3 separate regions of the Homo sapiens genome follow, and regions 1 and 3 are each reported to be linked to region 2. The links are microRNA targets in miRTarBase. Many come from high-throughput screens and were not tested one by one. Region 2 holds a microRNA gene; each other region holds the end of a gene's coding sequence.
Evidence for each region. Region 2 holds the annotated microRNA hsa-miR-3913-5p (UUUGGGACUGAUCUUGAUGUCU, at 6,538-6,559, shown strand). A microRNA usually pairs through its seed, bases 2 to 8, with sites in the 3' UTR of a target mRNA and lowers its output. Matches are read on the target gene's strand: a 7mer-m8 pairs with bases 2 to 8, a 7mer-A1 pairs with bases 2 to 7 and ends in A, and an 8mer does both.

Region 1 (11,426 bases), not on the chromosome of region 2:
TAGGTCATAGGCCTATCTGGTGCCTCTTGGTTGCTCTTTCATATGTGAGGGTGAGGGATGGGAAGGGACAGGCATTCTGTGATTGTAGACAGGCTTTGTTGGTGGGAGGCTGGGCTTTGGGGTGGGTGTTGTGGTGCCATCATCACACTGGAGGACCCCTGTGGTCCCACACACCAGACTGCCCTGGGAACTGCTTCCTGCCCCCAGTAATGTGATAAACCCTCTCCTGCTGCTGACTGTCCTGTCGATTCTTGGTTTTAGCTTTTTCCTTGAATCTTAGTGGCTTCTTGGCAGGGGAGAAAATAAACATGTGTACTCAAGCCACCGTCTTGAATCAGAATTCTAATTTCCTCTCTAAATTTGAAAGATTAATGCATTTTATTATGAATTGGGTAAACAACTTGTCACAGTCTTGTTCTGTATAATTTTACAGATTCTCCTGCACTTAAAACACTACAAGATGACTTTCTGGAGTTTGCTAAAGACAAAAACTTCCAGGTGCTGAATTTTGTGGAAACACTACCAACCTACATTGGCAGCATGATTAAGCTCCATGTGGTACCTGTGGAATCAGCAGGTATTCACTCTTTTGAAACTTGTTGGCTGTTAGATGCTTAATTATACCTAGCATTTACTTGTAAACAGCAATTTTTATATCCAGGTTCTCAGTTTTAAGAGATAGTTTATGAAGGTCTAGATTTGATTTCTTTTATTCTTTTCAGCAATAGATTAAAATTTCTCTGTAAACATATAACCCGGGTATTACCTCTCCCTGCCCTTTATGTAACTGATTAGATGAGAAGGGTTAATTGGCTAACTCTAAGTTAGGCATCAACAGTGAACTCTTTTGCAGTAAAGAAAGCTCTTCTATCAGCTAGATCAAAAGGGGCATTTATTTAATAGACTTAGACTTATATTTACATGCAGAACCCTTAAGAAAATCATCTAAAAGTGTGGAAGCTTTCGTAAATAGAAGATCCATGGGGAATAGTAAAGCTCCAGAAATATTCCAGTGGGAAAAACTAGTGTTGAACTACAATCTCTTCATGATCCTGGGGTTGAGGGAAATGGCCAGTGCTTGCTCTCTAGTGTCATATAATGTATTATAGATTCTTTGAGGGAGGAGCCCAGATCTTAATTAACTCTCTTCATAGACTCCTCTGTTACTCTGTACATACTAGATACCCTGTACATTTCACCACCTGAACTGCTTTTGCCTCACCTGGCCATGTCTTCAGCTTGCCTGTTATCTCTGGGAACCCCTTTCTTACTGCCTCTGAGGCTGGCTTAGGTGCTGTTCTGGTGGTAGCCAGCCACATTGTGGGTCCTTCAGGCTAGGGACAGCATGCATCTGGAGTGCTTGCCAGATGGTTCTTTTGTCTACATAATGAGTTTTGTCCTAATTTCATTATATGCTATCTACATAAAATGAAAAATGTCATACTGTGTAGTAGAACTGAAAAATTTTACCTTAAAGTAATATGCTGTAGGTTGAGGAGTTACTATTTAGTAGTTGAAGAACTTGAAGAGTTCCAAAGAACAGCTGCCAGATGTTTTTAAAAAGGACTTTGGAAGCTTGAAGCAACAGCATAGTTTTTTGTTTTTGTTTTTAAGAGACAGGGTCTCACTTTGTCATCCAGGCTGGAGTTCAGTGGTATAATCATAGCTCATTGCAGCCTCGAACTCCTGGGCTCAAGCGTTCCTCCCACTTCAGCCTCCTGAGTAGCTGGGACCACAGGCGCACACCACCACACCTGTCTAAATTTTTAAATTTTTTGTATAAATGGGGTCTTGCTGTGTTGCCCAGGCTGGTCTCAAATTCCTGGCCTCAAGCAGTCCTCCTGCGTTGGCCTCCCAAAGTGCTGGGATTACTGGTGTGAGCCACTGTGCCTCGCCCAAAAGCAAAGTTAATATCATGGACCAGCTGCTTGGAGTGGCATAGCCTTGCCCTAATTCTGTCACCAAGAGGCTTTTCTTCCTTCATAACCACCACCTGCATTCCTCACCTAGGTGGCCTCACTAGTACCTCTTATCACTTCCGTGCGAGGGGACTTTGTTAGACCGAAATATCTCAAGCACTAAATCATTTTTACCCTGAAAGTGATTATTGGGATTTAGGTATAGAATGGATCCCATGTGAGACATTCCCATTCATTTCACCAGGAGAAAGGAAGTTTATAATAGAAACTCTGAAGTAACTTAGCAATAACCTGCAGGTGTAAGAAGGTTTTGAATATGTTAGTGCTCAATCTCTGCTTGCTCTGAAATAAGGAAGTAGGCCAGAACACATACGAAAAGTTCATGGAAAGCATAAAACTATGGTTCTACTGACTGAGAATCCCTTCCTGCATGTTTCATCAAATGTAGTTTAGCTGCAATCAAACTTCAGGTTCCTTTATCTTTTAAGAGTCCCTTGTCACAACCAAAGCAATGTCTAGAACTACCCATTCGGCCTCTTTCAGTATTGTCAAGGGGAAAGCTTATATTTTTACTTAGGTTTATTGACTTTTTTATTTTCTTCAGATTTAGGCATTGGAGATCTAATTCCTGTGGATGTTAACCATTTGAACATTTGTAAGCCAAAGAAAAAGGATGCTTTTTTGTACCAGCGTACTTTACAATTCATTCGTGAAGCTTTAGCCAAAGACCTTGAAAACTAACAGTTGTGCTCTTCCAGTTTTCATATGTGAATTCAGTGCAAGAAACTTGGTGTTCTGTTTCTTCTTTTAAGCTCTATGCAATCATGCAAACATAGTGATCATAGCGTCAACATGGTCTGGAGTGTGTTGCAGACTACAGAACATTGTTCTCCCTTCAAGCGCTGTAAAGCACCAACCCGGAAGTGGCAGGCACAGAAGGAAGGGCTGGATTGGGCCCCTTTGGTGTAAAGAAGTCCCTGTGTGCTGCTTTATGGTTCGCAGTGTTGGGCTTGGTGACTGGAGCAAAGCTGCTGTGAGAGAGTGTCCTTTCCCATCTGTGACTTTCCTGGTGCATCCAGGAGGGGCACGGCAGGTTCTGAGGTAACTCAACTTACCATAAAAATGCCATTAAGAGAGTACCTAAAATGGAGAGAAGAATGAACTAGAACATTCAAGACTCTTTTACTTCTGGGTATTGATTTGCTGTACATTTTTAAAGTTTGAGTTTTTAGCTCAGTTCTACCTTTTATCTGACACATTATTACTAGTGTTAACTTTGTTAGACTTATTGTCATGTCTGGGTCAGTTCCTTGTATCTATTTTCGTATTCCTGAGAACAAATCTTTTTCTTAGAAAAATTCTAGCTTATAATAATTCTTTTCAGACTGTAGCTGCCTATGCTTGGAATTTGTCCTAGATAAGGATAAAGTAGCTAATCCATTATTGATCACAGTATGAAGTAAAACTATTCTAAGCCATTATATGAATTAGCAATTCTTAGTATCAAGATTCTCAGATTCTCTTTGGCTAAATAAACCTTTCTTCTTCCTTGCTCATTTGCAAGTGGTATTAATTGACCTCTATAGCATGTGAGTAGTAGATAATCATGTCGATGACCTTTTTTTCTTTAGAGTAACAGCATTATTGAGATATAATTTACATACCATAAGATTCACCCTTTTAAATTATACAATTCATTTTTGTTTTGTTTTGTTTGTTTAGAGACAGGGTCTGACTCTGTTGCCCAAGCTGGAGTGCAGTGGCATGATCATAGCTCATTGTAACCTCAAACTCCTGGGCTCAAGAGATCCTTTTGCTTCAGCCTCCCAAGCAGCTAGGACTACAGGCACATGCCACCACACTTGGGTAATTAAAAAATAAATAAATACTTTTTTGTAGAGACAGGGTCTCACTGTGTTGCCCAGGTCTCAAACTCCCGATCTCAAGCCACCCTCCCAAAATGCTGTGATTATAGGCCAGAGCCATTGTTCCCAGGCTCAATTCATTGGTTTTTAGTATAGTTCACTGAGTTGTGCAACATCATTGCTATTTAATTTCAGGCTATTTCATCATCCCCAAAAGAACCCCATACCCATGAGCAGTCAGTTCCCACCTCTGCTTTCCCAAGCCTGCGGTAAACACTAATCTGTTTTCTGTCTCTATGGATTTGGGAATTTTATGTAAATGGAATCATACAATATGTGGCCCTCTCTGCCTTCTTCCTTCTATTAGCATGTTTTCAAGGTTCATTCATGATATAGCATGTATCAGTACTACTTCATTTCTTTTTATGGCCGAAATTACTCCATTGTATGATATGCCATGTTTCTTTATCCATTCATCAGCTGATGGACATCTAGGTTCTGTTCATTTTTGTCTATGATAAATAATGCTACCATGATCATTTGTGTACAAATTTATGTGTGGATAGATGTTTTTGATTCTCTTGGGTGGAATTGCTGGTCAAATGGTAAGTCTATGTTTAAATTTTGAAGATGGTGAACTTTTGTAGAATGAGATAGTCGAAGCTAAAACTGGAGTATGGCATCTGAAGGTAAATGGCTCATCAATAAACTCGATATCAACAATTAATTGTTTCATTGTACAACAACCTAGCAAAACCCACTTATTTATTGCTGTAGTAGACATAGCAAATATGACAGTTGCTAACAACGAATGTACTACCCAATGTGATAACATGGGGAGAAGGGGTAGATATGTTTAGTACATTTTTTCTCTTTTTTTTTTTTTTTGTTTTTGAGATAGAGTCTCGCTCTGTCACCAGGCTGGAGTGCAGTGGCACGATCTCGGCTCACTGCAACCTCCACCTCCCCAGGTTCAAGCGATTCTCCTGCCTCAGCCTCCTGAGTAGCTGGGAATACAGCCACGCGCCACCATGCCCAGCTAATTTTTGTATTTTTAGTAGAAACGGGGTTTCACCATGTTGGCCAGGACGGTCTCGATCTCTGGACCTTGTGATCTGCCCGCCTCGGCCTCCCATAGTGCTGGGATTACAGGCGTGAGCCACCACACCTGGCCCTGTTTAGTAAATTTTCTTGTTCTGCTTTCTGTGAACCATGGCAGATAAACCACAGTTGAAACAACTGTTCATTAATTCAGAGTATGGAATGGAAACCCTGTTTCTTAAATTTTTAATAGAATACAGCCGTGCTTTAAAAATAAGATGTGGAAGAGATATCCAATGTATTCTTAACTAAATTAGAATAGTCTGGATAAAATTTATTATACACAAGCAAGATTAAAAGAAATGGTATAGCACATAAGCAACACAGTAAAGCAAAATAAACAAGTACAGATGGTCCCCAGCTTAACGATGGTTCAACTCACAATTTTTTGAGTTCACAATGGGTTTATCAGATTGTTAAATGCATTTTTGACTTACAATGGGTTTATGCGGTTGCAGCCCCATCGTAAATCAAGGAGCATCTGTATAAAATGATGGCTGAAGGTGCAATTCTAAAAGAAAATATAATCCCTGAACAACAAAAAAGTGATGAAGGAAAAGGTGGAAAGCACTTGAAAATCAAATCAGCACAATTACAGAAGTAGAAACAGCACATTAAAGAATAGAAATGGGGCTGGGTGTGGTGGCTCACGCCTGTAATCCCAGCACTTTGGGAGGCGAAGGTGGGTGGATCACAAGGTCAGGAGATCGAGACCATCCTGACCAACGTGTTGAAACTCCGTCTCTACTAAAATACAAAAAAAAAAAAAAAAAAAAAAATTAGGTGTGGTGGCACGCACCTGTAATCCCAGCTACTCAGGAGGCTGAGGCAGGGGAATTGCTTGACTCCAGGAGGCGGAGGTTGCAGTGAGCTGAGATCTCGCCACTGCACTCCAGCCTGGGCGACAGAGCAAGACTTCGTCTCAAAAAAAAAAAAAGAAATGGATGAAAATTCTATCAATAGAGAGGTGGCTGGATGGATATGGAACCACAATAGATGCAGAAGCAAAATAAAATAATTAGAAGATAATAGATAAGCTGTTCAATTGTAAAGGCAATAGACAGACAGGCATTGTCAACATCACCTCAAGGAATAGGGACCTATGTGCCTTTCCTGACAAATTTGCTTGTTAATTCAATCCAGACATTTAAAAAAAAGGGAATAAAAATAGCACACTTTAAAATGCAAACAAAAACCCTAAAAACAAAAACACTTATGTTAGAAAACAATAATGTTGGAGAGAAAGAATTGTGTGCTCAGCTAAGTTGCCCTTGAAATGGGTACAAAGGTAATGGACCAGCATGCTCAAGCCTGCAAGAATTGGGGAATACTGTGCAGTTCTAGTTTTACCTTCTTAGCCTAAGGTAAGTTTATTAGATAATGACATATAGTATGCCATCATACTATATGTCATTAATATTAAACATAATTTACAAACCATATGACATATAGCATACTATCTAAATATTAAACATTAAAAATATATGTATTCTAGAATATATATTTAATAACCTATATTTAATAAACATGTTTTATATATTCTAGAAATCTATGTGTATATGTATAGTAAAATGCCAGACACTATAATACACATAGAAAGATTTCTAAAGTAATGTTTATGATTACTTCTGGGTAGATTTTGGGTTAACTTTTCATATTTTAATGCTTAATTTTATGAGTATTTGTTACTTTTTTCTTTTCTTTTCTTTTTTTTTTTTTTTTTTTGAGACAGAGTCTCACTCTTGCCCAAGCTGGAGTGCAATGGCGCGATCTCGGCTTGCTGCAACCTCCGCCTCCTGGGTACAAGCGATTCTCCTGCTTCAGCCTCCCAAGTAGCTGGGATTAAAGGCACCTACCACCCACACCCGGCTAATTTTTGTATTTTTAGTAGAGATGGGAGTTTCACTGTGTTGGCCAGGCTGGTCTCAAATTCCTGACCTCAAGTGATCCACCCACCTCCGTTTCCAAAAGTGCTGGGATTACAGGCGTGAGCCACTGCACCCAGCTGAGTATTTGTTACTTTGATACACAATTTATTTTAAAAAGAAAGCTCTGTAAAAGTCAAAATCCAAATCATAGCCACTGTGCTCACTGGTCAAGTTATTGCAACATAAGATGGAATATTAGTGAAAAAGGAATCTTAAAAAATAATAACAGGCTTCTGCTTTCAGTAATAGCAGGATAGATCATTTGGATCTAATCTCCCAGTGAGGACAATTAAAGAATCTAGACGAAATGTTTTTAATTGATCAAAGAGCTACAAAGAAAATAATAATGATTTATTGGCAAAAATAAATTATTATTATTATTATGAGACAGAGTCTTGCTCTGTCGCCCAGGCTGGAGTGTGCAATCTCGGCTCACTGCAACCTCCGTCTTCCGGGTTCAAGCAATTCTCCTGCCTCAGCCTCCCAAGTAGCTGGGATGACAGGCATGTGTTACCATGCCCAGCTGATTTTTGTATTTTTAGTAGAGGCAGGTTTTCACCATATTGGTCAGGCTGGTCTCGAACTCCTGACCTCAGGTGATCCCACCACATCGGCCTCCCAAAGTGCTGGGATTATAGGCGTGAGCCACCATACCTGGCCCACTATTTTATCTATAGAAATAGCATCCAGGAGGCCGGGCGTGGTGGCTCATTCCACAGACTGAAGAAGTTAATCCAAAGCAGAGCATATAAAAATAAATCTGCATCTATACAGAGAATAGGGACACTGCAGAAAAGCCAAGACAAGAGGAAGATCTTAAAAGTAGTTAGAGAAAAATGTGTAAAGAACAACAGTTAAAATTGCTGCTGTTGAGAAGTCCTAAGTCAATGGAAGCCAGAAGACACTGGAATGATATTGTCAATGTGCTAAAAGAAAACCACTTGCAATCTAGAATTATACATCCAGTACAAATCATAAACACTTAAAATATTAAGATGAAATGGACATTTTATATAAAGAAAAAGAGTTTACTGCCAGCAGACCTTCATTAATGGAAGGCAGAAGGCAAGTGATCCAGCCAGAGGCACTGGAATTCAAGAAAGAATGTGGAGTGAAAAAAGAGGTAACTACTAGGATAAATTAAATAAAAATTTTATAAAACATAATATATCAAGTGGGTGTTAAAATATGTAAAATTAAAATACACAGCAACTATAGCATATAAGTTGGGGGTGGGTAAATGGAGTTAAGTGCTCCAAGGTTGTTGTGTTATTTAGGAGGAAGGTAAAACAATGATTATCACTAGACTTTGAGAATTTAATGATACGTATTTTGTTTCTAAGATAACCAATAATAGACAAAAAATAGTGTATATAATGAATTCCAAACTAGGAGAGAAGAAAAAGGGGAATAAAAAAAAAAAATCTTAAGGCACAAACAGAGGGGAAAAGAAATAAGGAACAGATGGTACTAAGAGAAAGCACAAAATGGCATGGCAAGTGAAAACCCAAATATAGTAATAATTGCATTAAATGTAAATGAGCTAAATGCCCCAGTTAAAAGATAGTGTGTCAGACTGGATAAGAAATAACACCCTACTATATGTGTTTATAAGAGACCCACCTGACACAATCAAGTGAAAAAAGAGGCACAAGTTGCCAATGTTAGGAAGGAAGAGGAAATATCACTACAATGCACACATTACAAGATAAGAGGATATTAATAGATACTTTCAGGCCAATACTACTCAATTTTTAATAGAAAACTCCAAGGAAAATACAGCTTACCCAAGTTGCCTATGAAATAGAAAACTTTTATAGTCCTATTCCTATAAAAGGAATAGAATAAGTGGTTTTAAAATCTCACAAACTATAGGCCCAAGTGAATTCAATGTACTGTTCCTTACTGGTCAGGAAGGACTAGCCATATTTATGACTTCGAGATTATCAGTATATTCTTACTGCTGAAAATCATCAGAGAACATTTATGACCTATATTTCATGTATTAAAATTAGCTTAGAACAAACCTAGACAGAACTTGACTGGTGAGTGCTACCGAAAGTTTAAGGAGGAAATAGTTCCAATGTTATCAAGTTTTCCCAGTTAATAGAAAAAGAGTGTAGTCCCCAGCTCATTTTATGAGGTTAACAAAACTCTGATACCAAAACCATTCAAGGACAGTATAAAAAAGGGACAGTTACAAGCCGTTCTCATGGATGTAGCTGCAAAAATCCCAAGCAAAAATATTGACAAATTAAAGCCAGCAATATTTAAGGGGGTAAAATAATCTCCCCAAGTTGGAGTTACGCAATGAATGAATGCAAGGTTTGCTTAGCACTGAAAAATTGATCAATGTAATTCCCCAAATTAAACAAAAGGAAAAATCATAATCATTGCAATACACACAAAATATCTGATAAAATTCAACCACTATTCATGCAAAAGATAAACTTAGCAAGCCAGGAAGAGAATTTTGTCAATAAAGGATATTAAAAGAAAAAAACAACAACAGTAAACATCATACTTAGTGGTAAAAATATTAACATCTTCCCTCTGAGAACAGGAATAACACAAGAATGCCTACCAGCAGCATTTTAAACATCGTCCTAAATGTCCTAGCCAACTCTGTAAGGCAAGAAAAAGACACAAAGATACAAGGATGAGAAAGGAATAAACAAAATTCATTGTTTGCTAATATGATTATTTACATAGAAAATCCAAAAAAACCACAGATACCATGTTTTATCAATTCCAAGACACATTTCACAATATTTGAACATCTCTGTAATTGGGCTGCATCTCACAATAGCTACTGAGTCTTAGTTGGAAGCCGTCTTAAGAATGATGGTACATAAATGGTGTGTCTGATAATTGATGGTATACTAGGTGTATCAAAATACAGTAAATTGTTAGAATTTTGAGAGTTTGGCAAGGTTGCTGATGCATTCAATATAAAAAGTCTGTAAGTATACTAGTAAAAAATAGCAAATGAATTTTAAAATAAGTATTGTCTGTTAGATATAATAATGACATTAAGGTTATGAAAGAAAATGTTGGAGATACACGTTGAAAGTACCGAGGAATCAAGTATGATAGCAGAATTGCTTTGAAATATTTCAGCAAAGGAAAAATATATAAAGCAAATATAGCAAAGGGTTATTACTGTTAAATCCCAGGTGACAGATATGCGAGGGTCCAGGCTATTCCCTCTGATTTAATGTATGTCTGAAACTTTTTACAAGTTAAAAACTAAGAAACATCAAGGAAAACCTTAAATGAAGAGATGTGATGGGTTCTTGGACTGAAGACTCAATACCGTAAAGCTGTCTATTCTATTCCATGCAATCCCAAAAATTGCAACAGGTTTTTAAAAAATGAAACTTCAATTGATTTTAAAATTGATCTAAAAATACAAAGACTCAAAAATAGCCAAGATACTCTTAAAGAAAAAGAATATGGTGAGAGTGCTTATCAGATAACAAAGTTAAATGAAATAAGGCAACGTTGTATTGGCACACGGATAGACAAGCAGGCCAATGCTACAGAACACGGAGAGCCCAGAAGGTCTACATTCTGGAACAGCTGTATGAGCTGCTCAGGGAAACCTCTCCCACAGAAAGACATCTATTAAACTGGTCAAAATTAGCAAAAGCCATCATTCAATGTCTCTAGAGATTGACCAAAAGGCTGACAACAAATCGTGAAACATTTATTCAGCAAGATCTAAGGAATCTTGGTAGGAGCAAGGCGAAGGCATCACTTTGGAACTAGAACTAGAGCCTTCACCATCCCCCACAGATCTGCCTTGCACAAAGACCTGTTCCAGCAGGTAGAGTGTAATTGACAGCAAATCAATTTCTCTCTCTCTCTCTCTCACACACACACACACAATTTTGTACCCTATGACTAAAAAAAAAAAATTATATTGATGAAACCACTTTGCAAATCAATCCTCCACATGGCCACATCGAACGTTAACACATTTTTAAAAGTAGATGGTTTTCTAGGTCATAGTCTCAGGTCACAGGCCAATAAAATTAGGGCTAAGTAATTTAAAATGCCAAAAAAAAAAAAAACAAAAAACCCAAAATCAAAAATAAAAACAAAAAACCCTTAACTATTTGGAAATTATACAGTCTCCTAAATAACCAATGGATCAAAGAGAACGCAACGACAAATTACAATCTAGCAATTAATGACAAGGAGGAAATTTCATTCCAAAATGTATAGGGTGCAGTTAAAGCTAAAATCAAGGGAAAATGTATAACTTTAATTAAATATCTTTATTATTAACTATGAAAGACCAAAAATGAAAACCCAGTTCTACTATTAAGATTAGGAAAAGAACAAAAGTAAAAGTACAAAACAGATCCAAGTTAAAGTTAAAAATTAATGAAAGATGTTTAAAAATACAAAGAAAAAATATATTTTTAGACAGTCTCACTCTGTCACCCAGGATGGAGTGCAGTGGCACAATCTTGGCTCACTGCAGCCTCCACCTCCTGGGTTCAAGCGATTCTTGTACCTCAGCCTCCCAAGTAGCTGGGATTACAGGCATGCACCACCATGCCTGGCTAATTTTTGTATTTGTAGTAGAGAATGGTTTTTCCCAT
Region 2 (11,426 bases):
GTGTATAAATACATATATTCTTGAAATAGACATACCATCAGAGACATCATTCACAAGTAACTGATGTATTGGCATCTCATTCATATTTCTGATGTGTGAGGTATATGGTACTAATTACCTTTTCCTTGATGTTTGCCAAATTTGAATAAAGGCATTGGTACGAAATTACAGAATGTAAAGAAAATGTTTTTGGCTTGAAAAATTAACATATTTTATGACGTACCACAGTATACTCTGCCCAAACCAGCACCCTATCTATCTTTCCTGTTCTTTACATCCCTGTTCCCCATCCCTACTTCCTCATTTTTGGTATAACACAGTTCTTTTGTAGCATCATTATAATTGCAGTTCTATGGCAATTGGACAGTTATAGCATGGAAACAGACTGGTATAAGTAGTACAGTAGTCACCAGTGTGCCACATTTGCATTAGTAATGCAAAATATACATTTTATAAAGGACAAACTTTGTGTTATGTTTTATTTTCATTACATTGTATAATATTGTAAGACTATTGTATGTCCTAATTTGCATTATAAATGTTTTTTTCCTACGTAAAGGCATAAATATAGCAACTTTGTATAAAGGTAGCTTATTAGATTTTTAATTTTTTCTTTTATAAAAAATTGTCCAACAGTGGGACTACCATTGCCAAATTGTATATGAAATATGAATTTTACCCCCATGGTTAATTTCTTTTATAAACATTCCATATTTCTCTAATAAAAAGACATAAGTGATACTGTACTATGCATACATTGTATCTTAATGCTGTTTCAGATCAGCATTTTAAATTTTGGTTTGCATTTTTAATATTGGCAAAACGTAACCACTGTTAATTAAAATAAAACCTTGTTGTATATGTAACAACATAATTTTCCCTCTATCCCTTCCCACCCTTTGTTCTCTATTTCTCCCTATCAGTGCCAACTTCATACATTTTGTAGCATGGCAATAAAATATAACTTTTACACTGAGGCCGAGTGTGGCTTTTTGGAGGAAGTGGGGATGGGACGATTGCCCTCTAGTTGTCCTTTGCATATGACTGTTTTTTGCCATATAAGCCATGTCATCAGGCATGAAAAGTTTTCTCATATATGATGTAAACTTGCTTTTAAGGACAAGTGTGAATGTGCTTTTTAAGCTTAATTTTTGTCATGACAACTAATTTTTTTTATCTTTGGAGAAGTCAGAGTTCTTTACAATCAAACGTTTATTAACTGGAGTACTTAGAATAAGCTAGTAATTGAATTTAGTTCAAGGGCTAAGCAACACATTTTTAAATCCTTATTTATTGTAGAGTATTAGTATACTGTCCTACAAATTATGTAAAATATGGTTTAATATTAGATGACTTTGGATTTTGCAATGCCTTACTGTTGTCATTCTAGCATAAATATCCATAATGAGGTACTCAAGTTGATACTGGAAGCTGAGCTGATCATACACTGACCTGAAGCATTCATGAAAAGCTGCTTTATTGAATAAAGTCTGATTGGAGTTCTTTTCATGCTCACTTTCCCCTTATTGCTGAAAGTAGATTGCAATAAAACCCCAATAAAACGTTTGGTCGGATATCTACTTAAAAGTTTTATTGTATTTATATTTCACATACTACTTGAAACTTTGTGACATTTTCTTTCCTAGTCTCATATCACTGCCTCCATTTTCAAAATGAAGATATCAAAATGAAATTGTAACTATATGACAGGCTTTCTCACAGTTTTAGCTGTGTGATCATTCCAAATAGTAGTTCTCAGCTCTGGGACTTCAAACCTGTTTTTAGCCACTGAGTGACATTGCAAAGCCTTAGTTGAGTACAGGTCAAGATGGAAATTATTTAAACAATGAAGGAGATGGACATGTCCACAAGTGATTGATGTAACTGGCATGATAAAGACACACACAAAGGAAGGGCATCCAACTCAGCCTAGGGGTGGAGGTTTTCAAGCAAAGCTTCTTAGAGGGGGTGATCCCTGAGGTGGTTTGTTGAAAGTCTTTGTAGCTTAGAGAGGATGTCTTAGGGAGAAGGGATAGCATGTGCAAAGGCACAGAGGTATAGAAAGATCATGACATTCAGTGGTTGCAAGAGGTTCCAAATGACTAAGCGCATGGAGAGCAAAGGCAGGGTTGGGGGATACAGAAGAAAGGAGAAATGAGAAACAGATCACAGAATCCTAAGGAGCTTTTGTTTAAATTAGGTGAGAGAACTTGAAGGATTTTAAACACCAGAAAAATAATAGTTTAGAAAGATTTCTCTGACAACATGGATACGTGAAGGGCGCAGTATTTTTTTTTTTTTTTTTTTTTTTTTTTTTGAGACGGAGTCTCTCCCTGTTGCCCAGGCTGGATGGAGTGCAGTGGCGCCATCTCGGCTCACTGCAAGCTCCCCCTCCCAGGTTCATGCCATTCTCCTGGCTCTGCCTCCCAAGTAGCTGGCCCTACGGTATTTTAATAAAGCAGGGAGACTGGTTGAGAGGCTTTTTCAGAAATGGAGCCAGATCTGATAAATCCGTATTCAAAGGCATTGTTAAAGGACTGTTTAGATTGTTTACTGCTGTGCAACAAACCACCCTAAAAGTTAGTGGCTTAAAGCAGCAATCATTTAATGTCTCAAGTTGCTATAGATCGAGATGGGCAGGGCACAGCAGAGATGGCTCATCTCACATGATGTCTGGAGGCCTGGCTTCCTCATATGCTTTGTGCCTATGCTAGTATGATTCAAGCAGCTGAGGGCTGGCTGGACCAGTTCCACTAGGTTATGTCTGGAACTTAAAGCTCTCAGCTGTGTTCCTTAGTTTTCTTCCATGAAGTCTTGGGTCTTTCTTCATGTGGTCTTCTTACATGGCAGCTTAGGGTTCCCAAGAGCACAAAAGTAGATGCTGCTAGGCTTTCTTGAGGCCTAAGCCCAGAACTGGCACAATGTCAATTCTGTTGTATTTTGTTGAATTACAGTGGCTCATATAAAAGCATGAACATCAAAAGTGTAGTTTATTCAGGGCCACCAATGTAATAGAGGGCCTAAAGGAGGAAGAATTAACACCTCTGATTGATAAGGGGAATGACAGAAATGGAGGGGTCAAGGATGACCCCCAGTTATCTGGTTTGGGTGACTGAGATGGTTGATGGTGTCAGTTCATTGAGATTTAAGATATATTTGGGGGCTGGGCATGGTGGCTCATGCCCGTAATCCCAGCACTTTGGGAGGCTGTGGAGGGTGGATCACTTCAGCCCAGAAGTTTGAGACCAGCCTGGGCAACATGGTGAAAACCTGTTTCTATGAAAAAATACAAAAATCAACTGGCGTGGTGGTGTGTGCTTGTAGTCCCAGCTACTCAAGAGACTGAGGCAGGAGGATAGATTAAGCCTGGGAGGTTGAGGCTGCAATGAACTGTGATCCTGCCACTGTGGTCCAGCCTGGGCAACATAATGAGACCCTGTTTTTTTTTTTTTTAAAGTGCTCCTCTAAGTGTGCTCCACAGACTGATTCCTGTGTACAAACTATCACGGTCTGCAACAGGAGAAATATCAAGTCTTCTAACCTTCTCCCTACTACCCAAACAGTAGGTGTCTGGGTGGACCCAACTTAATGTGACTGTGGACTCCTGGTCCTTTATTTGGTTTCCTTCCCCAGGTATTCTAACTGTTCCTGAGGAATGTTGACAAGTCCCATAACTCTGTTCTGGTGGTTGTTTGCCACTTCGCCAGTTATTTCACTCCAGTTAATGAATCTACCCTTGCTCCCAAATCACCTCTAGCCATCAAATAATGATATGCTACAGTGCTTTCCTACTTCCATAACATGCCAAGCATATCCAACCTCGGCTACTATATTTATAAAGCCTATTAGAAGACTTGGGATATAATGATAACAATAGCTAAGCTAAACAGGCACTGTTCTAAGCTATTTAATCTGTGATAATTATCTCCATTTTACACAAAGGGAAATTGAGGCACAGAGAGATTATATAACTGGAAGCTGACCAGTTAACAAAAAGCCAATTCACTGAAAGCCAAATTATACCAAGGGGAAGAGAGAGGAGGACACAGGGTCATAGAGAGGAGAGGGTCACAAAGACTTTGAGGGAGGAGGAAGGGTTAACTAAGAGAAGCCAAGACCAAGGGACTTGAGAGTAGAGGACAGAAGATGAGCCAGGAGAAAGTCACACAACGTGTTTAATCACAGAAACATGGATTCCCAAGGTCTCACTATCTCCATAGGCCCTGTAACCTATCTAATACAAATTACGATAAAATGTATAAATAGATGGGCACAGTGGCTTCTGCCTGTAATTCCAGCACTTTGGGAGGCCAAGGTGGGCAGATCGCATGAATTCAGGAGTTCAAGACCAGCCTGAGAAACATGGCAAAATCCCGTCTCCACCAAAAATACAAAAAATTAGCTGGTGTGGTGGCGCATGCCTGTATTTCCAGCTACTCGGGAGACAGGTCGGAGGATCGCTTGAAGTCAGGAGGCAGAGGTTGCAGTGAGTGGAGATCACACCACTGCACTCCTGCCTGGGTGACAGAGTAAGACCCTGTCTCAATTAAAAAATATATATATAGGTGTGGTGGCTCATGCCTGTAATCCCAGCACTTTGGGAGACTGAGGTGGGCAGATTGCTTGAGGTCAGAAGTTCGAGACCACCCTGGCCAACATGGTTAAACCCTGTCTCTACTAAAAATACAAAAATTAGCCAGCTGTGGTGGTGCATGCCTGTAGTCCCAGCTATTTGGGAGGCTGAGGCAGGAGAATTGCTTGAACCCGGGAGGCGGAGGTTGCAGTGAGTTGAGATCATACCACTGCACTCCAGCCCGAGCGACAGAGTGAAACTCTGTTTCAACAACAACAACAACAACAAAAAAGTATAAACAGCTAAAAGAGACAGTTTTTGGTAAACCAGCACATTGATCACGCTCTGAATGGCCTTCAATGAACTGATTTAAAGAGCCTGTGAAACCCACCCAAGACTACAAAGCTAGTACGTAAAATGGTTGAAATTCAAACTCATATAGTCTGGGTCTAGAAGCTGAGTGTTTAGCCTCTAGGTGTAGAGGTGTCATCAAAGGAGGGGGAAGTAGGAAAGAAGGAAGGGTCAAAAGATGCAATGGAGAAAGGACACATTTCCAAGGGTCCCATCATAGAGTCTCTTCCTGGCTGCCTCTAGCCTCAGTTCCACAAGGTGGCAGGGCCTGCCTCCTTCTCCCCATCCAAATGCCTCTGGCTACATTCAAAGCCCAGCAGGGAGCAGTCATTGGTTTCCCCATCACACACAGTCTCAGGCTTGCCTACCAGAGGACATAATAAATATCTCCAGGTATGTAATTTTGCCCACAATAAAAACAACCTTTTTCAATATTGTGCAGGCATCTTAGTTTTTTATTGTGAATCTTCTCATTCCAGAATGCGATTTGGGATCTGCCTAGGAAAGTACATTTCCTGAAAGAAGACCAAATTTTCCTACAAAGAAGAGAAAACTCTTGGGAGATTTAAAATAACAATTTGTCCAGCCTGAACTCCCCTTTTCATGTTGGACCTGAGGAATACTGTAAACCAGGGTCAGCAAACTTTTTCTGTAAAGAATTAGATAATACATGTTTTAGGTTTTGTGGGCCCATTCAACCTGTCATGACTACTCAACTCTGCCACATAACTCTGCTATCGTATTGTGACAGAGTAAATATGTATGGGTATGCCCATGGATTCCAATGAAGCTTTATGGACACTGAAATATTAATTTCACAGGATTTTCATGTGTCAGGAAATTTTTGATTTCTTTCAACCACTTAAAAATGTAAAAACTATTCTTAGCTCTCAGGCCATACAAAAAACAACTGGCAGGCTGGGTTTGACTCCTCACAGCTTGCCAACCCCTGGTGGAAATCAACCCACTTAGAGGAAATCTGAAGGGTAGAAACAACTAAAAAATTGAAAATTCCTGTTAATGTTAGCAATGTCAAAAATCCAGGAGACCCCAGCTACTCAGGAGACCAAGGCAGGAAGATTGCTTGAGCCCAGGAGTTCCAGGCCAGCCTGGGCAACATAGAAGACCCCATCTCTAAAAAAAACAAAACAGAAAAAGAAAAATCCAGGAGCTTGTTTTGTTTTGTTTTTGTTTTGAGACAGAGTCTCGCTCTGTTGCCCAGGCTGGAGTGCAGCGGCGTGATCTCGGCTCACTGAAACCTCTGCCTCCCGGGTTCAAGCAATTATCCTGCCTCAGCCTCCTGAGTAGCTGGGATTACGGGCATGCACACCACGCCCGGCTAATTTTTGTATTTTCAGTAGAGACAGGGTTTCACCATGTTGGCCAGGCTGGTCTCCAACTCCTGACCTCAGGTGATCCGCCCACCTCGGCCTCCCAAAGTGCTGGGATTACAGGGGTGAGCCACCGCGCCCTGCCGAGGAGCTTAAGCGATCAGTTAGTCAAAGGGAGAAAAGAGGGTATCAGTAGATGACAGAAAAATTTTTTAGAGAACAAATTTTTAGACATCCGTCAACTTAGAGAAAGTAGAAAACTGTCTATAATAAACTGAAATATTTGGGACTGATCTTGATGTCTGCCAAGGTTTTGGCAGACATCAAGATCAGTCCCAAATATTTCAGTTTATTATAAACAAAGACTAATAAGTCGTCTCTACTATTGGAGGAAAAAAAAAAAAAAGACCGAAATGCAAAAATTCCTGAAAATGAGTAAATAGGGCAAAGATAAAATACTATAAATGTCTCTCTCAGTTCACAAGACCTTATCCTGGGCAGTCAACGTCCAGTTAGAAATAACGTCTGAAAATTCAGTAAGAGAAAAGGAAGTCTTCTTCTGTAATACTCAGTAAATAATGTTTAAAATTAACATAGCAATAATATTATCTGGGAATATGATAGTAAATAGCCCCTCCAAAAAACTGAAAAAGTTGAAAGCAGTTTTCCTGGAGACAGGAAGTGGTGAGGCAGATAAATTATGTTTTTCCTTATTGGTATATAACACTTTAAACTGTGTACATGTGTGACTTTAATAGAAGTGTTTAAAGATTAAATTTAAGAAAATAAAAAGTGTGAGCAAGAACTCCATTTCTATGGCAACCCGCGCGGCAGCCGCCTCTTTGTTCTGGAGCGGCGGCCACGCCCCCTCCAGTGTGAAAGGCTGCGTTTCCGGCCCGTGGGGCTCCAATCAAAATGGGACGCCTGCTGGCGGTAACGACAGGCCGGGGCCCCGCCCCCCGAAGTAGGGCGTGTGGCGTCACTTCCGGCTTCCTTCAGTCCGCTGGTCCCGAGCACGAGCTGTGAGGGGATTCACTTGTGTGCGGAACTCCTCGGAACCATGGTGAGCCTGACTCCCCTGCCTCTTGCCCTACCCCTGCTCCGCCGTGCTCTTGCCACCCCACTGCTTCCTCTGTCCTGCTAGGGTCGTAGGCTCCGTTTCTGTCTCCCCGGCCCTCCGCACATGGTGCGAGCCATGCGCGGGGCGTGCGGCCTGCGCCAGGCCAGCCGGTGGAGCTCACCACGAGGGGGAGGGGTGGACCGCAAAGCCAGCGTCTCCTTGTGCCTAGGTCTTTGCATAGTCCCGGCAGCCCAGGTCCGCGCCTCACCCGGAGCGAAGAAATTTCTAGTGTGGGACCCGCTCCGCCCTCCTTCTAGGGGCGGAGCCTGGAGCGACGGGGTCTGAGCCATCAGAGGGTGGAGGGGCCGCAGCCTTCCGAGGGTGGAAGATGGAGGCCGCGTTCCCTCGCCCGCCCGGCAGGCGTCACCTTGATGGCCTGCAACCCCTCCCTGCCTCATTCTTAGTTCAAGATCGTCTTTAGTCTCGCTGTACGTAACTGTCAATCTCGCTGGTGTATAATTTATACTCCCGGGGGCCTTGTAAATCCGAAAAGCCATGTCGCTCTCCTACAAGTCCCTCTCTCCCACTTAAATGCTTTCTCCGATGATGGAAGCTTCATTTGATTGAAAACATTGTTGTAAATGAGTTTTCTCTTAGATGTCCACTTGTAAGACTAGTGGAAGGCACCTCAGTGTATGTGTTAGAGTATTGGTACTTAAACGGAATGCCTCTTGGTTTTCCTTTTCAGGCGTCCCTTTCCCTTGCACCTGTTAACATCTTTAAGGCAGGAGCTGATGAAGAGAGAGCAGAGACAGCTCGTCTGGTAAGCCTTGTTCTAAGCATTGTTTTAAAGATAAAACTGGAGGCCAGGCGCGGTGGCTTACTCCTGTAATCCCAGTACTTTGGGAGGCCGAGGTAGGCGGATGAACTGAGGTCAGGAGTTCGAGACCAGCCTGGCCAACATGGTAAAACCCCGTTTCTACTAGAAATACAAAAATTAGCCGGGCGTGGTGATGGGCACCTGTAATCCCAGCTACTCGGGAGGCTGAGGCAGGAGGATCGCTTGAACCCAGGAGGCGGAGGTTGCAGTGAGCTGAGATCGCGCCATTGCACTCCAGCCTGGGCGACAGAGCGACACTCTGCCTCAAAAAAAAAAAAAAGTAAATAAAGATAAAACTGTACTTGAAGACTGTAAAGTTGATTCTGATAATCTCCTTGGTTTTTACTCCAGACTTCTTTTATTGGTGCCATCGCCATTGGAGACTTGGTAAAGAGCACCTTGGGACCCAAAGGCATGGTAAGAAAAATAGAAAAGTTTTATATTTTAATATTGTTTTAGAGCGCTTGGTGGAAATATAATAACAAGCGTATTAAAATGCTTTTTAATCTTTAAAACGTTTAATTATAAAAGACAAGTATGTTCTCCTTAGTAAAAATCAGAGTCCCCAGAATCACCATCCCCAATCCCATGCCCCTCCCCAATGACAAGTACTGTTATCATTTGCACGTACATCTTCTAATATTCTGTTTATGTAGAAGTATGTGTACTTCATTATGTATTTTATACTCATGTAACATACTGTTTTATAAAACAGATACTATTTATCAATACTTTTTTGTAGCTTGCTCTTTTAAATTCCTTTCAGTGTAAGTAGATAACACTGCCCCTTTAACTGTCAAATATTATCCTGTACCTTAATTATTTTATAATTTAATTATGGCTGTATTGATAGTTTCTTTCCATTGTTTTTGCAGTTACGGTGTTGAAACAAAAACTAGTGTCTACCTGTGCTTCTAGTGTTTCTAGGGGTAGATACATGGTTTGGTTACGTGGTGTATGTATTGAAAACATTTGATGAATGGATACCACAAAATAGCTATCCAGAGTGTTTATACACTAGCACTGTGTGAGAATACTGATTGATCCATGCATTCTTCAAGATGTGCTTATGTCTTAACTTGAACCAATTATGTTCCCTTTAGGACAAAATTCTTCTAAGCAGTGGACGAGATGCCTCTCTTATGGTAACCAATGATGGTGCCACTATTCTAAAAAACATTGGTGTTGACAATCCAGCAGCTAAAGTTTTAGTTGGTAAGTCTGAATATACTTTTTCACCAACCTAATAATACTGTTTGTTAACATTTTTGAAATAACTTTATAAATAGGCTGTGTTGACCAATCGTACTGTCAATTGATGTCCACTAGTTGTTAATTATCGTTGTTAAAATACAAGCTTCAGGAGTGCCCGTATGTTGGTGGTAAAACTGTTGCATTTCAGACCTCAGAGTTCCAAATAATTTGTTGAATGAGGAACCCTGGTAAGTTTAGATTGGTAGTGAATATTTTTGGAGAATTTAGTAAGCAAAGAAGCAATTTTGAGTTAATAACTAATTTCTTTTTCTAGATATGTCAAGGGTTCAAGATGATGAAGTTGGTGATGGCACTACCTCTGTTACCGTTTTAGCAGCAGAATTATTAAGGGTAAGAGCAACTAAGCAACTCTTTTTTCCTACTGTGTTTTTGAGTATCAGAGGTAATCTAGTCCTTACTTCCTCTGTCTTTACTATTGAGGAGTGCTTAATAATTTTCTATTTATAACTTTTGTTTTATAACTTTATTAATAGGAAGCAGAATCTTTAATTGCAAAAAAGATTCATCCACAGACCATCATAGCGGGTTGGAGAGAAGCCACGAAGGCTGCAAGAGAGGCGCTGTTGAGTTCTGCAGTTGATCATGGGTTTGTATAGCAAAGTACTACTGTTCTAAACATTTAGTGTTCTTTCATAACATGCTTAATGCAAGAAATCTATAGGACACTGAAAAGCATACACAAAGATCATCTTGCTGCCTCACCCCACTCCAACAGTCAAACCTACATCAGCCTCCAGAGATAGCCACTAAAGTTAAGTTTGGGTTTTTAGTCTTTTTGTATATATCATCAAAATATACAAATAAAGCAAATAGTATAATACTGTATAGAGAATTTGTTAGCCTCTTTTTAACCTAGTTAAATATTAAGCACATTTTTGGATGTCAATTTTCTGTGCAGTATTTTAATAGAGTTACACATTTGAATATTTGGCTAGAATGACTGTATTAACCTATCTGTAGGGGGAGATTTGTGTATTTGATGATTTTTAGCATTATAAAATAACTTTGTGACGTTGCGACATAGCCCAAAGGTTTCTAGAAGTGTAATTGTTGGGTCCAAAGGTAAGTGTGTGTGTTTTAAGGCACCCCCAAACCTGGGCTGCACAGCAGGTGAGCAGCAGGTGGAAAAATTGTCTTCCCATGAAACCAGTCCCTGGTGCCAAAAAGGTCCGGGACCACTGTTTTAAGGCACTTCTATTTATTTGCCCATTCACAACTGTATAATAATACTTGTTTTTCACGTCCTTTTATTTATTTATTTATTTTGAGACGGAGTCTCGCTCTTAGAGTTGCCCAGAATGGAGTGCAGTGGCACGACTTCGGCTGACTGCAACCTCTGCCTCCCGGGTTCAAGCGATTCTCTTGCCTCAGCCTCCCAAGTAGCAGGGACTACAGGCATGTGCCATCATAGCCAGCTAATTTTGTATTTTTAGTGTAGATGGGGTTTCACCATGTTGCTCAGGCTGGTCTTGAACTGACCTCAAGTGATCCATCCTCCTCAGTCTCCCAAAGTGCTAGGATTACAGGCGTGAGCCACTGTGCCCGGCCATTTCTCACATTCTTGCCAACATTAGACTTTTGCATGCTTGTGTGGCCCCCACCCCTCTTTTTTTTTTGGCATTTTGCCAGTTTGGTGGGGAAAATAACATCTTTAATTTGTGTTTCTTGATTACTGCTGAGGTTTAATTCTTTTCATATAGCTTACAGACTTGATCAGTTAGGGTAAAATTATCTATTGACATGAATATCTAGATAAATTTTGAAAAGTAAAGTAGGGTTAATATGTATATTTGGTTGGTTTTATTTAGTTCCGATGAAGTTAAATTCCGTCAAGATTTAATGAATATTGCGGGCACAACATTATCCTCAAAACTTCTTACTCATCACAAAGACCACTTTACAAAGTTAGCTGTAGAAGCAGTTCTCAGACTGAAAGGCTCTGGCAACCTGGAGGCA
Region 3 (10,466 bases), not on the chromosome of region 2:
AACTGTCACCGCAACAGCCAGCTGTATGGAGCAGTGGCTGAGAGGTTATGGGAATATGGCTTTCTTAGGACCCCAGAACAGTGTCGGACCAAGTTTAAAAGCCTGCAAACCAGCTATCGGAAAGTTAAGAATGGCCAGGCACCAGAGACCTGTCCCTTCTTTGAAGAGATGGATGCTTTGGTGAGTGTCCGGGTTGCTGCCCCACCCAATGATGGCCAGGAAGAGACTGCTTCTTGCCCCGTCCAGGGGACCAGTGAGGCTGAAGCTCAGAAGCAAGCTGAGGAAGCAGACGAGGCCACAGAGGAAGATTCTGATGATGATGAAGAGGATACTGAGATACCCCCAGGGGCTGTCATAACCCGTGCTCCAGTGTTATTCCAAAGCCCCCGTGGTAAGATTATTTCACTATTATGGTATAAATAACAAAGGGAAGACAATGGGACTTAGGAAAAATATCATCTGATTGAGAACTGGCCTCTACACCCAGCTTTCATGGATTCTTCTTGTGACCACCCATATTTCTTGTCTATTAAAGCAGCTCACTGAGGGGATATAAATTATTTATGTGACTTGACTTCCCACACTAGAGCATCAATCTGAGATAGCTGCACATTGTAAATTTGCTGTGATTTATTCATGAACCACTAGGTTTCCAACCAGTTTACTAAGCAGGGAATCTGAAAGCTCACATTTCTCAAGTAGCATGTCACGTACCCACGGTAGGATGAAGTTGATTTTAAAAGTTCATTCTCTTTTATATGTCTTCTTCTAGTTTCAGCTCATATACCAGCTGTATGTCTGCTTTATTCACATTTATGAAAATCTGATAACTGTTGTTCACTTTTATGAATCTGAGGTTCCTGAGAGAACTGACCCTTTGAATCTTAGCTGCTAGATAAGAAAAAAATACTTCACAAGGGCTTCCATCCTTGTGAGAAGAGTTCTGATTTCAGAGTCATATATGTGTACGTATGTGAATCTGGGCTCTGTTGTTTATTAGTTAAGTGACTTAGAGAAGGTTACTTAAGGCTGGGCATGGTGGCACATGCCTGTAATCCCAGCATTTTGGGAGGCCGAGGCGGGCAGATCACCTGAGGTCGGGAGTTGGAAAGCAGCCTGACCAACACGGCGAAACCCCATCTCTATTAAAAATACAAAAAATTAGCCAGGGGTGGTAGCGCGCACCTGTAATCCCAGCTACTTGGGTGGCTGAGGCAGGAGAATCGCTTGAACCTGGGAGGCAGAGGTTGCAGTGAGCTGAGATCGTGCCATTGCACTCCTGCCTGGGCAACGAATGAAAAAAAAAAAAAAGTTACTTAACCCCCAAGTTTGCTTATATATTAAGACCTACCTCATAGGGTTGATGTAAATGAGGTACTGTGCACAGTGCCTGGCACATAGTAGCCATTTAATAATAGTTTTCATTTTCATAAGTCTTTAAGATCAGCATTTTTTAATGTTGTTCCCTGGAATATCAATTCCATGGGGTATTAATATATTCTACTAAAAAATAACTTATAGGTTTGGGAAGATGGTAAATACCCCTGTTGGAGGCTCACAATACATATTCACATATTTAAGGTTCTAAGATTTATTTAATCTAGTGAATATTTCATGAAATATCTCATAAGACTAGGCTTCTGGGTAGAAATACTGTCTCAGGAGGTACAAACATGGGCTGATACTCAACATGCTTTTACTCCTAGATTTAGTCTAGGGAATATGGGATTCAGAGTTTACCTGAAATAGCTGAATAAATGCAAATTTGCATAGCCTAGGCCCAAAAAAGCCAGGCATTTGGTTCTTAGGGCCTTTTGGTTCTTTGAAAGACACTACATATTTTTCTATCCTGTTTTTACTTGCAACGTATATTGGAATGTGAGGGGAAGGGGACTCATGAAGCTCCTCTGGATATAAAAGTTTCCAAAAATGTTTTCCTGAGCATGTCCTTCTAAACCTTTTAGTTACTGGTGAAGAACATGAATAAGAATACTATGACAGACCCGAGATGTGGCAAAAATACGTATTAGAAAGTGTCTTTCCTGTAGAAACATGGAAATTATTTTATCTAAAACCTGGTGATTTTCCATGCTGTACTGGGAGGATTTTCCAAAGATCCTAGATGACCAAGAGGAATTAAAAGTATATATTATTCAGACCCTATGTAGATGAGAAGCACATGATAGGTTAACAAGTAGAGAAGTAAAACATTGGGATTTTAATAAGATAATGGTAGTTATTTGGGATCTAGGGCTCCCTAAATTTTAATCATGTGGTGTAATGCTTGTTTTTCCCAAGTTTTACATTCCTGTGGCACATATGATTAAGAAAATAGATAACTTCTAAAATTCTGTTTTACATCAGGTTTTGAAGCTGGATTTGAGAATGAAGATAATTCAAAACGGGATATTTCTGAGGAAGTACAACTGCATAGGACATTACTTGCAAGATCTGAAAGGAAAATTCCCCGGTATCTTCATCAGGGTAAAGGCAATGAGAGTGACTGTAGATCAGGAAGACAGTGGGCAAAGACCTCAGGGGAGAAAAGAGGAAAACTGACACTCCCGGAGAAGAGCTTAAGTGAAGTCCTAAGTCAACAGAGACCTTGCTTGGGAGAGAGACCCTATAAATATCTCAAATACAGCAAAAGCTTTGGTCCAAACTCCCTTCTCATGCATCAGGTATCCCACCAGGTGGAAAATCCATATAAATGTGCTGATTGTGGGAAAAGCTTCAGTCGGAGTGCACGACTCATTAGACACCGGAGAATCCACACTGGAGAGAAACCTTATAAATGTCTTGACTGTGGAAAAAGTTTCCGTGACAGTTCAAATTTCATCACCCATAGGAGAATCCACACAGGAGAGAAACCTTATCAATGTGGTGAGTGTGGGAAATGCTTCAATCAGAGCTCAAGCCTTATCATTCACCAGAGAACCCACACAGGAGAAAAGCCCTATCAATGTGAAGAGTGTGGAAAAAGCTTCAATAACAGTTCTCATTTTAGTGCACATCGGAGGATACACACAGGAGAGAGACCCCATGTGTGTCCTGACTGTGGAAAGAGTTTCAGTAAGAGTTCTGACTTACGTGCACATCATAGAACCCACACAGGAGAGAAACCCTATGGGTGTCATGACTGTGGTAAGTGCTTCAGTAAAAGCTCTGCCCTTAATAAGCACGGAGAAATCCATGCACGGGAAAAGCTTCTGACACAGTCAGCTCCCAAGTAAGCCCCTGAGGATATATAACGGAAAGAGGCTCAATAAATGTATTGTTTAGAAAGTCTTCCAATAGTGAGATTCATCTACTATTCTGTGTCCAGTTAGCTTAGGAAATTCACTTTAGGATTTATGCCACTGTTTGTTCCTTGTTTTTCCTGATCTAGACTCAAATCCCCAAGGCAGTCTAAAGAATGAAAGGAAGATTTCAGTCCCTCTCTTTGCCTGCATCTGAATTGATGGATAACATCTTTTCCCTCTCAGTGCCTATGGTGTTCCCTTAATATAAGCACAGAGGACAAGGTAATAGATCCTATGAATTTGATAAGCATCCTTCTTTACTCATTCTGTCATTCAGCTGCATTTTGACAGGAAAAACCCATTACATTTCGAGAAGAAGTTATGAGACTTTGCCCATTAGGTGGGTCTAGCTCTTTTTTTTTTTTTTGGAGACGGAGTTTTGCTCTTGTTGCCCAGGCTGGAGTGCAATGGCACGATCTCAGCTCACTGCAACCTCTGCTTCCCGGGTTCAAGTGATTCTCCTGCCTCAGCCTCCCAAGTGGCTGGAATTACAAGCATGCGCCACCATGCCCAGCTAATTTTATATTTTTAGTAGAGATGGGGTTTCTCCATGTTGGGCAGGCTGGTCTCAAACTCCCGACCTCAGGTGATCTGCCTGCCTCGGCCTCCCAAAGTGCTGGGATTACAGGCATGAGCCACTGCGCCGGGCTTTTTTTTTTCGAGATGGAGTCTCACTCTGTCGTCCAGGCTGGAGTGCAGTGGCATGATCTCAGCTCACTGCAACCTCTGCCTTCTGGGTTCAAACAATTTTCCTGCCTCAGCCTCCTGAGTAGCTGGGATTACAGCCACCTGCCACCATACCAGGCTAAATTTTGCATTTTTAGTAGAGATGGGGTTTCACCATGTTGGCCAGGCTGGTTTTGAATTGACCTCATGATCTGCCTGCCTAGGTCTCCCAAAGTGCTGGGATTACAGGTGTGAGCCACTGCACCCGGCCCAGCTCTTCTTTATACAATAATGGAAATGCTAAAATGAATGACTCTTCCTGCTCACTTAAACCTGTGCTCAAAATGACATATTTGTCAGGCACCCTCTTCATTTACCTTAAAGAAGGAGAGTTTAATGTCCATCTTGGTTCTGCCCTATGAATCATCTTGTCAAGAACAGGTGTTCTTATGCAGAAACAATGAAAACCTTATACTGAAGTGTGAACCCTGGATTTCTTAGTTTCTTCTGAGTCCTAGAAGAAGGGTTGGAATAGAATAATACATTTACAGGATTTAGGTTGGTTTTCTTTCTGTCCAGTCTCATCTGAATTTCGTCTGTCTCTTGTGGTCCAGAAGTTCCACAGAGCAACGCAGCTGCATGTGGTGACAGGTAGAGCAGTTAAAGCTGCCAATAGGAACTCGTCCATATTCCACACACCTGGTATAGTGTTATGCCCTCCATGGGCACTTACCTGCAATAAGCAGAAGCCACTGCCACATTCCCGTGTATTGGGAAAATGGACTACTGTGTGCGAACAGGCCCTTTACCCTAATGGCAGGGAAGATGGATTATCTTTGGCCAGTGGAGCTGCCAATCTAGACATACACATTCAACTGAATACAATTAAAAGCAGTTCTTTAAATGCAAATATAATTACTCATCTTTATAATACAATAGTATTAACTGCCCATATGCTCATAGTATGATGAGCCCTGTATAGCACAAGGTCAACAGGTCCTCTCCTTGTCCTTACAATCTAAAGCAGATGACACTGACATGGACAAACAAGTGCACATGCATAGTTGCGGCAGTTTTAGAGAAATCTAGAAAGCTAGGTAGCAACACTATGCATAAATGTTGTGGTCCAATGCATTAGTTTGCTTTAACAAAAATCTGGGAGGTATTTTTTCTCTTTATTCAGGAAGGCTTCATGAAGCAGGAAGTGGTCAAAGGAGGGAAGGTTACTGGTTAAATTATGATAGGAAGAACTTTCCATAACTAGTTGCAAAATTGAGTGCTGGGTGGGTTGAGGAATGGGAAAAAGGGGGAGCAAGGTGTTTTGTGTAGATGGAACAAAGGGCAAAGGATAGACTGTAAGGAAGGCCAGATAAAGCTTGGAGTAGCATGAGAACTTGAGGAATAGTATGATATGGGCTGTGCAGCAGGCAGAGAGAATCACCTTAGCTGAAACATGGGTGTTAGGAGCAGACCATGAGGTGGTAGAACCATCATCTATAGTAAATCAGGTACTACGCTATAACTATTGATAAGGAAACAGCTGACTGCCACTGAAAGAATAAGCAGTTTTAGGGGACTAGCTCCTATGGGAGATAAAGGTCAGAAATCGTAGTATCTGATGAAGATATTTTGATGAGCAGGTGAGAAGAAAGATAAACATGGCCAGATGGCCAAGGACTGGGATAAGTAGCCGTTTCACATTCAATTAGAATTCTGTGGCTGGAATAAGATCAGGGAGAGCAGTAGGAAGATATAGTATTCTATAATTCATAGCTTGTTGTGTTAGAGATTAATTAGGATTCTGCTGTTGAATCTTAGTACAAAAAAATCTAATATTTATTAGGAATTAAGGGAAGATGGTACTTCTGTTATGTTGCCTAAGCAGACAGGAAGCTACAAGAAACACCAGTCTGAAGCAGTGCCTCAGGATCTCAGATGATTTAGGAAGTGTGCTGTAATGTCAAAAAAAAAAAAAAGTATTGTCTTTAGTATATCTATGTATAGTCTCGTGGGAAAAGCATTGGTTGTGGTATCAACAGATATTCTGGTTCCAGATGTCTTGTAAGTTAACCTGCCTCCATTTCCCTTTCTGTAAAGCAAAATAATGTTTACACCTAATCTGTCTCTCAGGGATACCATATTAATAAAAATCATGTCTATAAAGTGCCTGGTGTTTCTTGAAGTGTTTATGTGTGTGTGTGTATATATATACACAAATTACGATCAAGTTATGGAGGGCAGGAAAAGACCAATCTTTCTTTTTTTAACTCCTTGTGTGGGTTTACTAGAAGTATGCTTATCTGAATCTTTATATTCTAGAAAGAGGAATAAGTCAGATTGTGGTAAAAGGGAAATTAGAATGCAAATCCTTCCTTTGTACCTCTATCCATATCCACAATAAATTAGGACCCAAGATAACTGGGCATGCAGAGTCTTATTTTTTAAATTTTTATTTATTTTTTAGAGATAGGATCTCACTCTGTTGCCCAGGCTGGAGTGCAGTGGTGCCATCATAGGTCACTGCAGCTTCAAATTCCTGGGCTCAAGTGATCCCCAGCCTCCCCAATAGATGAGACTACAGGCATGAGCCACTATACTCAGCTAATTTTTTAAAGTTTTGTATTGATGAGGGGTCTACGTTGTCCAGGCTGGTCTTGAACTCCCAGCTTCAAGTGATCCTCCTGCCTCAGCCCCCCAAAGTGCTAGGATTACAGGCATGAGCCACAGTGACCAACTCAGCTGAGTCTTACTTTAAAAGACCCAAAACTGGCTGGGTACAGTGGCTTATGCCTGTAATCCCAGCACTTTGGGAGGCCGAGGCGGGTGGATCATGAGGTCAGGAGTTCGAGACCAGCCTGGCCAAGATGGTGAAACCTTATCTCTTCTAAAAAATACAAAAATTAGCCAGGCGCGGTGGCAGGCACCCGTAATCCCTGCTACTCGGGAGGCTGAGGCAGGAGAATCACTTGAACCCAGGAGGCGGAGTCTGCAGTGAGCCGAGATCATGCCACGGCACTCTAGCCTGGGCAACAGAGCAAGACTCCGTCTCAAAAAAAAAAAAAAAAAACAGACCCAGAACCAACCCTCCAAACTCCAGATGAAAAGAATGTGCAGTACATGCTGCCCAACCTGCCATTCCTCAGGATGGAAGCAGCAAAAAATACCTTCAAACATTCTGAGAAAGAAACCAAGCCCACTGTTGGGGGAGCAACAGCATCTCTGCACCTCTAACTTCTTAACATCTAAAGCCTTTGTGAGACAGATGGGGTGGCATGTGCAGCAAAGGAGGCAAAAAATGTGTATTAGCAGAAGCTGGATAATCCTGTTCACATCAGTTGTTTCCTTAGTGCCATTACTTTTCTTTTTCCCCATACTATCACTTTTCCTAAGTTTGTTCTCTATGGCCAATGCATAGAATGTAACATATGTTTTTGCCATTTCTCATTTATTGTAATCTGAGTGTAGACTCTGAGTCTTGTCAATGTAGTATAGCACTATTTTACACTACTTTTTTTTTTTTTTTTTTTGAGACGGAGTCTCGCTCTGTCACCCAGGCTGGAGTGCAGTGGCACGATCTCAGCTCACTGCAAGCTCCATTTCCCAGGTTCACGCCATTCTGCTGCCTCAGCCTCCCGAGTAGCTGGGACTACAGGCACCCGCCACCATGCCCGGCTACTTTTTTGTATTTTTAGTAGAGACGGGGTTTCACCGTGTTGGTGAGGATGGTCGCTATCTCCTGACCTCGTGATCCGCCTGCCTCGGCCTCCCAAAGTGCTGGGATTACAGGCGTGAGCCACCGGGTGGCGCCCAGCCTGTATAGCACTATTTTTACGGTGACCAGGTAAGAAAGGGAAGATGAGTTAAGATTGTAAAGATAGATCAGTTCTTTCCCCATTATTCAATTCAGAATCCAAAATGAAGACTTTACTCCTATACACTGAAATAGCTATGTAATGACATGCATGTCTCAAAATTTTGACATATAAAATGTTATGTAGAATTCTCTGAAACCATGGTGCTTTAAGTACCAGGTGTGTGTGTGTGTGTATTTTTTAAGAGCTTAAATTATTCCTTTCCTACCGCACCCAAGACGGTACTCTTTTAGAAACAAAACTTTGGAACAACTAGAAGTCAGGTTAAAGACTAGAAATAGAAGTCCAATGTACCTTAGAGCTCAAAAAGGCTCTGGAGAGCAGAACTTCGCTGCGGTCAAAATAAAAGAACATTAAAAAAAAAAAAAAACACATTGATTCCCAGGTGACTCAGTTCAACTTGTATAACCCAATAGATAAATCAGGGAAGTAATTTTAAAGTCTTCCATAATTAGTGAGCTCCTCAAATTATGTAAGTATAATTTAATATACAAATATTTTATTGACATCTTTCTTAAATATAGTACAGAAACCAAAGACACTCACATCATTCTACACAGTGAGGTCTATATTCCAATAACTCATGCTGTGAGTCACCGAGCACCTGAATATTTCTTAGGCCTCACATATCTCTGGATGCCCAAAGTTGGCATTTGAGAGTTGTTAACAGATAAATGCAGAAGCAACACTTACAGAGACTGGGCCAAATTCTAATGAACTTAGTGGTCTTGATGTGGAACTAGTGTAGGCAAAATGAAGCTGCATTCCAGGTCAGTCCCATAACACTTCACCTCTGGGTTCATTTGAGGTACAGATAAGACACAAGCTATATATGGTCTTAGCAACAGAGAGAGTGGAAATAGCAGCTATGTTGGTGACCAGGTAAGGTAAGCCTGGGATGGGGCTTTGAAGATGCAAATGGTACGCATGTACAGGGTTACCTGGTATTAACAGTAGGGGACAGGTGTATTTTCCAAAACGCTAGATCACTGAAGGAATCCAGGAAATAAGGTTTCAGAGGGTCTATTCCAATCTATATACACTGTATAAAGTTTTTTTAACTTTTAATCTTGATATAATTTCAAACTTACAGAAAAAGTTCCAAGAGTACAAGGAACTCCTGTATACCTGGATTCACCAACTATTTATATTTTGCCCATTTGCTTTTCATTCTCTATGTATGTGAATGTGTGTGTATATACACTTTTTTTTTTTTTTGAAACAGGGTCTCACTCTGTCGCCCAGACTGGAGTACAGTGGTCTGATCATGGCTCACTACAGCCTTGACTTCCTGGGCCCAAGCCATCCTCCTACCTCAGCTTGTTGAGTAGCTGGGAACACTGGCATGTGCCACCACACCTGGCTAGGATGTTTTTTTTTTGTAGCAATGGGGTCTCCCTATGTTCTCCAGTCTGTTTTGTTGTTTTTTTGAGACAGACTCACTCTGTTGCCCAGACTGGAGTGCAGTGGTACAATCTCAGCTCACTGCAGCCTCGAACTCCCAGGCTCAAGTGATCCTTCCACTTCAGTCTCCTGAATAGCTGGGACTACAGGCATGGGCCACCACGCTTAGTTTTTTAAAAAATATTTTTTTGCAGACGGGGTTTCCCTATGTTGCCCAGACTAGTCTGGAACTCCAGGATCCTCTTGCCTCAGCCTCCCAAAGTGCTAGGATTACAGGTGTGAGCCATGACACCTGGCCCATGTGTTTATTTTTTTTTAATTCAATATTTCACCATTAAATCTGATGTTAGCTGTAGTTTTTCATAAATGCTCTTTATCAGCCAATCCACATAAATTTTAGAACCTCAAACAAAAAAAACTTATGCCATCCCTACCCTCACTTAAGACTAGCATGACTTTTATAGTGTGAAAAGAATTTCATGATAAGGCTAATAAATTAAAATCATACACTTCAATAGCTTTTGTATAGATATTAAACAAAAAAAGGACTATAAAACTTTATAACCATATTTTCATTGAATATATTATCATGAACACTTTCAGTCATTAAAATCTGTTCTGCAACATTTTTAGTGACTGCAATAGATCCACATTTTATGAATAAACTTTGATGTTTTTACTGTGCAATTTCTGTATGAGTAGATAAGGGTAGAAAATAATATAATGCTATATATAATGCCACACAAAGCTACACACACGTATCTAAGAACTTCAAAAACCACAGAACTTCCCTCTCCCCTGTTCCTTAAAACAAAGTCTGAGCGGAAAAAACAAACTTTTTTCCTCTGCTCTCACACCACAATAAAGACAGAAAACTTCTCTGACCAAATGTGTGGAGTTTTTTCCCCACCATCAAGCAAGCAATCAATTTTGCAGCAGATACCAGCTAGGTGTCCTCCAGTTTCCCATGCTATCCCCTAGAGATGGCATTTGATCCCACAGATTGAGGGCCCAGTCCCACAAGACTGCTGCCCACTTCCAGTGCCAAGTTCAAACCCCAGGTGGTTTTACCTGTGCTTCTGACCAAACCTATAAATCAGGGTTCCCATGACCCCTCCTTGAGTTTAATTTGCTAGTAAAGCTCACAGAACTCAGGGAAACACTTAGGTTCACTGGTTTATTATAAAGGACAGTACAAAGGATAGAGATGAAGAAATGGATA

Region 1: miRTarBase lists SERAC1 as a target of hsa-miR-3913-5p. Seed matches in the 3' UTR shown: 7mer-A1 at 3,873-3,879.
Region 3: the mRNA of ZSCAN29 is a reported target of hsa-miR-3913-5p. Seed matches in the 3' UTR shown: 7mer-A1 at 3,909-3,915 and 7mer-A1 at 4,196-4,202.

Annotation. Positions count from the first base shown.
Region 1 is chr6:158,102,600-158,114,025 of GRCh38, reverse strand. It overlaps SERAC1 (serine active site containing 1), which reads left to right. Exons shown (of 17, transcript NM_032861.4): 16 at 434-577; 17 at 2,524-4,507. The coding sequence ends at 2,660. Among named protein-coding and RNA genes, the nearest start is that of SERAC1, 60 kb to the left of the region's middle.
Region 2 is chr12:69,578,207-69,589,632 of GRCh38, forward strand. MIR3913-2 (microRNA 3913-2) reads left to right here and starts at 6,517; the gene lies at 6,517-6,616. CCT2 (chaperonin containing TCP1 subunit 2) reads left to right here and starts at 7,253. Exons shown (of 16, transcript NM_006431.3): 1 at 7,253-7,318; 2 at 8,064-8,138; 3 at 8,547-8,612; 4 at 9,299-9,410; 5 at 9,724-9,800; 6 at 9,944-10,056; 7 at 11,279-11,426. The coding sequence starts at 7,316. MIR3913-1 (microRNA 3913-1) reads right to left here and starts at 6,617; the gene lies at 6,516-6,617. FRS2 (fibroblast growth factor receptor substrate 2) reads left to right here. Exons shown (of 9, transcript NM_001278356.2): 9 at 1-1,587. RefSeq lists an enhancer at 7,284-7,623.
Region 3 is chr15:43,353,840-43,364,305 of GRCh38, reverse strand. ZSCAN29 (zinc finger and SCAN domain containing 29) reads left to right here. Exons shown (of 6, transcript NM_001372080.1): 5 at 1-391; 6 at 2,365-6,131. The coding sequence ends at 3,233. MAPDA (N6-Methyl-AMP deaminase) reads right to left here. Exons shown (of 13, transcript NM_001324366.2): 13 at 9,737-10,466. Among named protein-coding and RNA genes, the nearest start is that of ZSCAN29, 12 kb to the left of the region's middle. RefSeq lists a silencer at 9,238-9,431.